Regions from separate parts of the Homo sapiens genome. Here region 1 is linked to region 2. A link means that fine-mapping ties the variant in region 2 to the expression of a gene that starts in the linked region. Tissue or cell type: whole blood. Region 2 holds a variant in brackets; the other region holds the start of a gene. All regions are shown on one strand. Distances are from middle to middle. Region 1 holds the start of ACP6 (acid phosphatase 6, lysophosphatidic). Region 2 overlaps ACP6 (acid phosphatase 6, lysophosphatidic).

What was found. PIP is the estimated chance that this variant, and not a neighbour inherited with it, causes the effect.
Region 1: it holds the start of ACP6, and the variant in region 2 is fine-mapped to the expression of ACP6 in whole blood (TOPMed, PIP above 0.99).

Annotation. Positions count from the first base shown.
Region 1 is chr1:147,668,323-147,673,696 of GRCh38, reverse strand. It overlaps ACP6 (acid phosphatase 6, lysophosphatidic), which reads left to right and starts at 3,173. Exons shown (of 10, transcript NM_016361.5): 1 at 3,173-3,867. The coding sequence starts at 3,649. RefSeq lists enhancers at 2,711-2,780, 3,221-3,470, 4,111-4,170, 3,382-4,325.
Region 2 is chr1:147,646,302-147,651,675 of GRCh38, reverse strand. ACP6 (acid phosphatase 6, lysophosphatidic) reads left to right here. Exons shown (of 10, transcript NM_016361.5): 8 at 1,438-1,533; 9 at 3,265-3,430; 10 at 4,110-5,374. The coding sequence ends at 4,253. Among named protein-coding and RNA genes, the nearest start is that of ACP6, 22 kb to the left of the region's middle. The variant C/T (reference allele first, on the strand shown) is at 2,478.

The DNA.
Region 1 (5,374 bases), 22 kb before region 2:
CATTTGGCAAGTATTTATGGAGTACTTACTACAAGCCAGGCACTGTGCTCACCACTGGGGAAAAAAATGTGAATGTGGTTGTTTCTTATCTAATCTCATTATTAAAACTGAGTTTTTACATAATATTAAATGCAATCCTCTGAAGACAATTTGGCTGGGAAAGGGCTTATTTCCCGAGCCATCCCTGCCTGGTAGTTTAAAACCAGGGTCAAAATAACAGCTACTCAGTGTTCCCCTGCTTCCTGCAACCACCCTAACACCCCCACCCACACGGTCCTACCCTGGGTCAGGACTTCCAGTCTCTCTCTTTCTCTCTCTCTCTCTCTCTCTCTTTTTTTTTTTTTTTTTTTTTTTGAGATGGAATCTCACTTTGCCGCCCAGGCTGGAGGGCAGTGGTGCAATCTCGGCTCACTACAACCTCTGCCCCCAGGTTCAAGCGATTCTCCTGCCTCAGCCTCTCGAGTAGCTGGGATTACAGATGTGTGCCACCACACCCGGCTAATTTTTGTATTTTTGGTAGAGACAGCGTTTCACCATGTTGCCCAGGATGGTTTCAAACTCCTGACCTCAGGTGATCTGCCTGCTTTAGCCTCCCAAAGTGCTGGGATTACAGGCGTGAGCCACCGCGCCCGGCCCAGCCTCTTTTAAATTGCAGCTCACTGCCACTACTATCACACACAAAATACATCTGGACTCCCCATGGTTTGTCTCACATGTGTTGACAAACAGTGCTTTTAACAACCACATGAAATCAGCTATTTTCCACCCTCACTCTGGTTTCTTTTGGAGATCTGCTGCTAAGTTGTTCCCCACACTTCCCCACACTCCCCCTCCAACAGGACACATGAGCCCTGACAGGACCATTGCTGTATTAGTCCGTTTTCACACTGCTATAAAGATACTACAATTTATAAACAAAGGAGTAAATTTACTCACAGTTCTGCATGGCTGAGGACAGGGGGAGGCCTCAGGAAACTTATAATCATGGCAGAAGGGGAAGCAGGCACCTTTTTCACAAGTTGGCAGACCAGAGAGGAGAAAGAAGGAGGAATTTCCAAAAACTTATAAAACCATCAGATCTCCTGTGTGGAGAGAGAGATCCTTCTTTCTCTTCTTATAAAGCCATCAATCCTACTGGATTAGGACCTCACATTTATATCTTCACTTAACCAAAATTGCTACTGGAAAGGGGTCCTGATCCAGACTCCAAGAGAGAGTTCTTGGACCTCGGGCAAGAAAGAATTTGGGGCGAGTCCATAAAGTGAAAGCAAGTTTATTAGAGAAAAAGAGAAACAAAAGAATGGCTACTCCATAGACAGAGCAGGGGCATGGGCTGCTCAACTGAAAATACTTATGGTTATTTCTTAATTATATGCCAAACAAGGGGTGGATTATTCATGAATTTTCTGGGAAAGGAGTGGGATTTCCTGGAACTGAGGGTTCCTCCCCACTTTAGGCCATATAGGGTAACTGCTGGCCCCGACATTCGTAAATTGTCATAGTGCTGATGGGAGTGTCTTTTAGCATGCTAATGCATTATAATTAACGTAAAATGAGCAGTGAGTTTGACCATAGGTCACTTCCATCAACATCTTGCATTTGGTTGGTGTTGGCCAGCTTCTTTACCACTTCCTGTTTTATCAGCAGGGTCTTTTTGACTGGTTTCTTGTGATACCAGTCCTGCTGACCTCCCCCCTCATCCTGTGACTGAGAATGCCTAACCTCCTGGGAATGCAGCCCAGTAGGTCTCAGCCTCATTTTACCCAGCCGCTATTCAAGATGGAGTCACTATGGTTCAAATGCCTCTGACAGAATCACCTTCTAAAAGTCCTATGTCCAAATGCAGTCACTTAGTGGGTACGAATTTGGCGGGGGACACAACTGAGTCCATAGCAAACAGTATTCGATTTTTAATCACATCAGCACACACAATAAGACTCTGAAAAGTGAGTCCCTTGGCTGGGCTAGGGAGAAAATTGTGACAATATGTAGTGTTCCAAAATGACCCTCCTCCCTGCATCAGGGAGGGGAGCACTCAGAACCTTCCAGCTTGGTGAACAGAATTTGTTCTCAGGCCAGGAGCCATGCTCTGTAAGTATGTTGTCTTTACATCTGGCCCAGTTTGATCTTTGGAGATAGACACATAGTGGGTCCCAGATTGTGTCCTGTTGCAAAGATCTGGAAACACAGGCTTGGGATACCTGTATATCAACAGAAACCAGACTAGCAGGTGGTAAGGCTGGCATTGTTCTGTGTTCTTAGGTTTTTTTTTGTTTTTTTTTTGTAGACGGAGTCTTGCGCTGTTGCCCAAGCTGGAGTCGTGTGGCGCGATCTCGGCTCACTGCAAGCTCCGCCTCCCGGGTTCACGCCATTCTCCTGCCTCAGCCTCCTGAGTAGCTGGGACTACAGGTGCCCGCCACCACGCCTGGCTAATTTTTTTTTTTTTTTTTTTTTGTATTTTTAGTAGAGACGTGGTTTCACCGTGTTAGCCAGGATGGTCTCGATCTCCTGACCTCATGATCTACCCGCCTCGGCCTCCCAAAGTGCTGGGATTACAGGCGTGAGCCATGGCGCCTCTTAGGTTCTTAATCACTGGGACACCCACAGGCAAGGCCTGGCTTTTTCCACAAGAAGTATTCTGGATGGAAGTAAACACATCAGTGACCTGAAAGTTCTACATGATTACAATGACTTAAGCTTGAGAATTTTTTTAAAAACAGAGAAGGGAGTAGTAAATGACTAAATATAAAGCACCTAGTGCTGTGTTTCGCAAATGGCAATCACTCGGCAGGTGTCTCAGCTCCTCGCTGCAGCAACCAGGCTTCCAGGACTGGAAGGAAGTCTTCTACATTCAAAACTAGACTCAAACTACTCCCCTCCACCACCCAGTTCTACTCCTGCGCTCGCGATCCTCCTGCCTGGCAAACTCCATGGCCCGACAGATTCACTACCACTCCACTGCCGGACCAGGCACGTCCGTGGGCCATCCACGCCTGGAAAACGGCTGGCTGGGCCGGAGGGGCGAGGCCCGCAGGCGAGGGGGGCGGGTACAAGCCACTTCTTGGGAGCCGCGGTACGCGCAGCCTTGTGGGAGTTGTAGTTTCCGCAGCTCTGAGTCTCCAGGCGAGGTGTCACCACAGGACTCGTTTTCCCGTGCTCCTGTGCGCGGGTCCACTTGGGACGGGTCCCTGAGTAGGTGAGGAGGTGGGTAGGAGCTTGCTTATAGAAAAGTGGAATCGAGTAGTCCTTGCTGGTGGAGCCGCTGCCGCCAGGGAACTCAGGGCCGGCTCCTGTTCCTTCAAGAGTGCTGGAGGCCAAACTTGAAATACAAGTTTAATGTTCCTCGTCGGGCAAAAGATAAGGATCCGATCTCCCCCGGCCCGGTGTGCAGCAGGAGCGACCAACCCCGACCCGGGTTAAAACTCCCAGGGACTCTTCGCTGCTGCCACCTCTTGTTCTCTCCCCCGTTCCCACTCGGGGTCTCCCTCAGGGCCGGGAGGCACAGCGGTCCCTGCTTGCTGAAGGGCTGGATGTACGCATCCGCAGGTTCCCGCGGACTTGGGGGCGCCCGCTGAGCCCCGGCGCCCGCAGAAGACTTGTGTTTGCCTCCTGCAGCCTCAACCCGGAGGGCAGCGAGGGCCTACCACCATGATCACTGGTGTGTTCAGCATGCGCTTGTGGACCCCAGTGGGCGTCCTGACCTCGCTGGCGTACTGCCTGCACCAGCGGCGGGTGGCCCTGGCCGAGCTGCAGGAGGCCGATGGCCAGTGTCCGGTCGACCGCAGCCTGCTGAAGTTGAAAATGGTGCAGGTCGTGTTTCGACACGGGGCTCGGAGTCCTCTCAAGCCGCTCCCGCTGGAGGAGCAGGTGAGAGGTCGGCCCGGGCTGGGGCTGGTGGGGCGAGGACCGTGTGCCAGGCCAGGAGTCTCGCCCTGACACACATCTTCAGAGCTTTACTCGCGCGGAGCGGGGCTCGGGTTGGGTCCAGAAGAAGGGAAAACAGCAGTAGCCAGTGACTCCCCAGGCTCTTGAGCAAAGGACCTGCTGGGGTTAGGACAGCCCCGGAACTTCCAGTTTTGCCCTGATGGCGCAGCCATCAGTAAGCGCTGCTTAAGACGCATGGGAGTCGCCTGGGGATCCTGCTACGTTGCAGATTCTGATTCAGCAGGTGTGGAGTAGTGCCCCAGGTCAGCATTTCTATTAAGGGTCTAGGTGAACTTGAATACAAGGGTGCAGTGCACTTCTGTGTGACCATTTTGAAGGTGGTTTGTCAGAGCTGAAGGGCTGAAGGGACTTTAGTGATAGGAACCACTCTTAACTGAGATTACAGTGGATAAGAGGTCGTTGCCTTTGGAAACAAACTTTATAACTGCTTTTTCTCAGGGTTTGCTGGAGGCCATTTGAGATCTCCTGAAGTTTTTTTTTGTAACAAGTGTTGTATTCTAGGGTTCTCCTTTTCTATTTAAGGTTACTAAACCTATAGTGGGAGGGATCTGAGGTCGGAACAAATTTAAAATGGGCTAGTCTGTGGCAGTAATGTTTTAAAAATCTGTCTGGTTTTGTCAGGATAATTATGACTAAAGCACAAATAGTTTAAAAAAAAATGATTATCTTTCCTGGATGTGACTTTTTATAGCAGAAAGGCCTAGTGAAGAGGAACAGGCAACCTGAAATCCCCAAACTCCCAGGTATTACACCTGTGGAGTGCTTTTGTATCGTTGGTCTTCCAGGTTGATGTTGGAGGAGGTCGAAAAGATTGTCCAAAATTGATGTTAGGTATACTCTTCATAATAACAGTTGCTTTCTAGAAACCTTCAGGATTGTGTCTTTACATTGTACAACTGGAAACCCATTTTTCAAGGTTGGCCGCACATGAAATTAAACTTCTAAAGCATTTTCCACATAAATAAATACATTTGGAAGGCACTTAATTCTATTACCAGGTTTCTAGTTAGCCTTACTCTGGCTTTACCACTTGCTCTCTGGAACCGGGATTTCTTCTTTCATTTTGATTCTTTGATTTTTTTTTCAGTCTCTTACTTTGCCTTTTTATATTAGATCACTAAATTTTCCTTATGATTTTGTATACAGCCCATCTCTGATGCTCCCCTTCCCCCAATTCTTCTCTATTTATTCTTGGTACAGAAGGACTGGGGAATCACATGTAGGAATATATATTATATTCACGTAGAAGACAAAAAATTATCAGTGGTAATGGAGAGTAAAACTTTGAATGTGTAGGCCTAGACCTAGTATGTACCATATATATATATATATATATCCTGAAGGCACTAGGAAAAGATTTAGATTCTTTTAGGGCTTTATCCCTAAGGGAGAGTGGGTGTGTGATGGATATCTTCTGCCTTTATGGTTG
Region 2 (5,374 bases):
TCAGGGTCAGTGTGTCCACTTCTGTGCAAGCCTAGGGCATCTAGAAGGTTCCTGCCAAGCCACACAGCTTGCTGCCACTCCCTGGGACTTGCCAGCTTCCCTTTTCTGCTTGTGAAGGGGTGCCACCATACCTAAATTGTTACTTACTTCCCTCTCCTTTATCAACACACACACACATATTTAGTAAATATTTTAAGCTGTCAGGATCATGCAATTTCTGTTACAACTACTCATCTCTGCCCTTGTAACATGAAGCAACCAAAGACAATATGCAAACAAATAGACATGGCTGTGTGCCAGTAAAATTTGTTTACCAAAACTGGTCAGATTTGGCCTATGGTATAGTTTGCTTTATTCTGGTGTAAATCATTTTAAACAGGACCTTGTCTATTCCATTCCAATTAGCCCTGGTTTTGTAAAACTAACATTTCTTCAAGGACAAATGGTTACAACCTCACAAGGCCATCCAACTTGGCTTTGCCTGTATACATTCTTCTGAAAAGTATGTGTTGCATACAGTGTTGGTTGCCTGCTCTTCATCCATTGCTGCAACATTCCTTGACTTATAAAGATGGTCATTTACCCAATCACCACAAATAAGGATTTGTCTAAGCCAATCATGGCAACCTTGTTTTCATTTGTCAGTGGCTGGGTTCTGGGAATTCTAGGAGGGGTGTTTTTTTCTCTTTGATAAAAAGTGAGAAGCACAAAAACAAGGAGAAGACCAGTCTCTGAAGTCTCCATGGAAGCTGATCAGCTGCTAGGATGAGTAGATGAGAAACATTTCTTTCTTCTATAGTAAGTGGACTTTGTTCACTACTGTGAGTGAACATGCTTTAAGCTGCAGTAGTCACCTGTGGCCATGATGTGACAGGCCTGAGAATGAAAGTGGTGGAGCCACACAGCCAAGCCTGGGAGCACGACCACTGAACTTCTTCTGTAAAATAAATAAGACATAAATAAGAAATGTCTTTATGGCCCAAACTCCAAAAGAAGGAAGGCTGGCACATAGGAAACAAAATTAAGGATGTTCTTGTTCCTTCTGATTATTTTTCTAAGGGCCTTCTAGAATTCCTGGAAATTATTACCCCTTCTTCTTCCCAGCTTGTCAGCTTTGTTCTTTGATTCCCCAAGGCCTAGTTGGTCACGGCTTATCCAGGTTACCACTCTCCTGCTCCCTCAGCCCCTCCCATCTCAGTTGTGTTCACAACAGGTCTGTGTGCTGGTGCCTGTGTTGTTGGGAGTCTTCATTCACAGAGGACCCCAAGACCGGACTCGGTGCCATTTCTCTCCTTCTGGCCCGTTGCTGGCCCTTATGCATTACTTGCCTTTTTCTCAGCTCTGTCTGGACTCATGAGGTCCTGGGGGCAGAATCAGTCTGTGTCCCCTGAATGCTGAGTGCCCTCTAGGTGCTTAAATGTTGTTCACTTTTCACAGGGAAAGTCTTCAGATGGCAGTAGGCCCATTCCTCCACATCCTAGAGAGCAACCTGCTGAAAGCCATGGACTCTGCCACTGCCCCCGACAAGATCAGGTACCTGGCACAGCAACTCTGCTTTGTGCAGCTAAGGGCCGTGGGAACTTCTGGCTGTAGGGAGGGAACCCAAATCTTAGTGAGGCAAGAACCAGGCTGTCAGTGACCGAAGGTAGATGTTTAACAGGCCTCAAGTGTCAAAGAGGTTCACAATCTTTTAACCTTTCTTCCTGCTGCACCCCTCCTACCATGTTTTGAAAATTTTATTTTTGCTTTCTCTCTCTCTTTTTTTTATTAATTGAAGATATGTCAAACAGTAGCCAATTATGATGTCACACTGATTTGATATGATAATAGTCCAAAACAAAGATAAATTGCTTAATGGATTGTGTAGTTTGAACCACTTTCATTGAGTGTAAAGAAGGTATGATATCCATAAGGCATTTAAAAATATTGGAAGTGGCCAGGTGCAGTGGCTCACGCCTGTAATCCCAGCACTTTGGGAGGCCAAGGTGAGTGGATCACGAGGTCAGGAGATTGAAAACATCCTGGCCAACATGGTGAAACCCTGCTCTACTAAAAATACAAAAATTATCCGGGCATGGTGGCACGCACCTTTAGTCTCAGCTACTCGGGAGGTTGAGTCAGGAGAGTTGCTTGAACCCAGGAGGCGGAGGTTGCAGTTAGCCAAGATCACACCACTGTACTCCAGCCTGGTGACAGAGCCAGGCTCTGTCTCAAAAAAAAAAAATGTTGGAAGTAGCTCATGAGCCTCCATTGCCACTTTTGGAGCCTTGAATCCAAGGTTGGGACTACGGCTGTGGAATATTATGTGTCCTAGGCACTTGCTAAGTGCGTTCTGCAGGAAAACAGCTTCACCGTTGCCCAAGAACTCATCAGGTTCTCAGGCTCCAGCCTGATCTACTAAATCAGCATCTGCAGTTTAACAAGATCCCCAGGTGATTGATAGTCACCTGAATTTTGGAGAAGCACTGTTGTGGTAT[C/T]ACAGCTAGAAACTCATGATGGCGTAAGAGGAATAGGAGACAGTGAGTTGAAACAGGAACTTTGGGCCAAGATTTGTAATAGCAAATCTTGTGAATACCATTTCCTGTCCTTCACAGTACCTGCAATGACAGTACATTTTTTCTGGCTTTTGCCACCTTGCCACCTTCTGCCTTGGATCTTTAGAACACCACAGGATCCAATGCTAGTCTTCTAGGATGGGGGTCCATAAATAAAATCCTTGGTCTTTCCTAAGAGATGGATACTGGTGTCAGGCAGATGTAGATTAAAATGGCATTCTTATTACAGATTAAAGCCATTTGGAGAATGTGCTGAGGGCCAAATGGGCTTGTGAATATTATTTTGAAATAAACTTAATACCCCAAAACTTCAAGCTTCCCCAACAAGGAGCCCTACTAAACTCATCCCATGGCTGAGAGTAGGAAGGGCATTCATGTAGGCTGGCAGGACCCAAAGAGAGAAGAGAGGTAGGGTCTAAGCCACACACGCTCAGTTTCTTCTTTGAAACTCACCAGGGAGGAGTGAGTAGGTGGCAAGGAGGAGGCCAGGAGAATTTCTCTGGCGGGGACCCTCCTCATGAAGACACGGGGAGTGGGAACAAGGGTTCTTCCCACGATCTACTGCAAAGGACTTTTATACCAGGCTCAGCTGATTTCTAGATGTCACCTAGTTTCTGAGGCAAGTGTGTCTTACGTAAAGGAGGCAGGCCACATCCTGACCTTCAGAGTCCTGAGGCAGAGAATTGTGGAGAGCTGTTTCCTCTTGCAGAAAGCTGTATCTCTATGCGGCTCATGATGTGACCTTCATACCGCTCTTAATGACCCTGGGGATTTTTGACCACAAATGGCCACCGTTTGCTGTTGACCTGACCATGGAACTTTACCAGCACCTGGAATCTAAGGAGTGGTTTGTGCAGCTCTATTACCACGGGAAGGTAATACCCCTGAGGTGGGGTTGGGTGGTGGTGAGGCACCCTCCTGCAAAACCCACCTACCTGAGTTAGCACCAAGTCTCCCTCCTCAGGCCCAGTGGAGTCTCTCTTGGCACAGTCAGCTCTCTGAATCCTATAGGGCAACTCCTGGCTATGGCCCAGGGGTCAGGCAGAACTTGACAGATGGTGGCAGGATGGGGCTTGAGCCTTATCCCAGTTCTGTTACAGACTCCTAGGAACAGGGTCCCCCTCCTCTTCTCCTGAGCGTCCCTGTCAGGATGTCGCCTCCTGGCTGTGAGACCTGTTTTGGAGATTGTTGGTGGTATCTTTGGGAGGTGATGTGTGCTGCTGTTAGCACCCGTGGTGTTGGCTGCTTCATCAGGGCTGGGGTCCAGGGCAGAGGCCAGAGCACGCCCCAGGGATGAGCCTGTTGGTTCTCCCAGCTCGGGGATGTAACTCGACTCTTTCTTCCCAGTCAATTCAACACTTTTTGAGTGACTTTTACAAGCAGAGCATAGTGCTTTTATTCTGGAAGCTCACCGGGTAGTGGGGCCTTCCTGTCTGTAATATGTATGCACATGTATACCACATGGATCAGAGCCTCTCAGATCTCTGGGCTTAGCTGGAAATAGCAGAAGGACAGGTTCCTCGGCGGACCTGCTGAGTTATGTTTCTTCTGCAGGAGCAGGTGCCGAGAGGTTGCCCTGATGGGCTCTGCCCGCTGGACATGTTCTTGAATGCCATGTCAGTTTATACCTTAAGCCCAGAAAAATACCACGCACTCTGCTCTCAAACTCAGGTGATGGAAGTTGGAAATGAAGAGTAACTGATTTATAAAAGCAGGATGTGTTGATTTTAAAATAAAGTGCCTTTATACAATGCCTCCTGCTTTGTGTGTTTGGGAAGAGGAGAGAGCAAGGGGTAATGTACTTTAATATAATGTAAGGATATTTCCTTTCTGTGGGTTTACTAAGATTTCTTCCTGAACGGAAAAGGGGTATAATATTGAGACCAAAAGGATATTTCTCTATTTTGTGAGTTGGTTTCTAAGGTTAGAAGCATCTTTGTGTGACACGGGCTGGGGACATCATGACCCTGTAGAATTGTGTCGGTTTTGGACTTTAGTTCTTTTCTCCTATATTAATTTCACATGTATTGAGCTACCTACTAAGTAGTGATCATTATAAAGGTGAAAACACTCTGCCCTCAAGTTGTTGCAGTCCAGTGGGAGAGGCAGCCGAGTAAATCAGTGATACAGTGCTGTATGTTTTATGCTGTAATAGGTATTTGAGGGGCTATTTGGGTATAGAGAAGAAACTTCCTGCTCACATGGCAGGGGATGTGGGGAACAGTCAAGGAAGGCTTCTGAAAAAGTCCTGGCCTGATCTGAGTAGAGAAAGGTGGGTAGGAGTTAACCAGGAAAGCAAGGATGAAAGCGTGTTGCGTTTAGATAAAGGATAGGCTTCAAGGTCAGGGAACGTTGCTGGGTGGTGAGATGGAACCCTGATGTGGAGGCTCAGCAGGAAGAAGCAGGAAGGACACTGGGCCCCTGGTGGTTTTAGTTCCAGAAACAAATGTGGGCCCCAGGGCTCTGCAATGGTAAGGCTGGAACTACTCAACATAAGAGCTCCACCTTTAACTGTGCCCCCTAAGAGTACCTGATGATCCCCCTATCTCCTTGTCAATGTTGCTGTTCTTCTCCAGAATCTATTTCAACCCTTCTCTGATTTCAAACCACCAGTCCCTTTACCTCTCAGAGAAAACAGCAACCACAAAAGCCTCTCCACTTCCTACTATCTTAATATTGACAACTTCCAGATCAGGGAGCTGAGATATCTCAAGCTCAGGTTTCTCTTCTGAGCTTCAGACACTTTTATCCACTTGGATTTCACTGGCACAAAACTTTCCATGTTAGAATCAAACCCCCCTCCTCCCAGACCTGCTTCT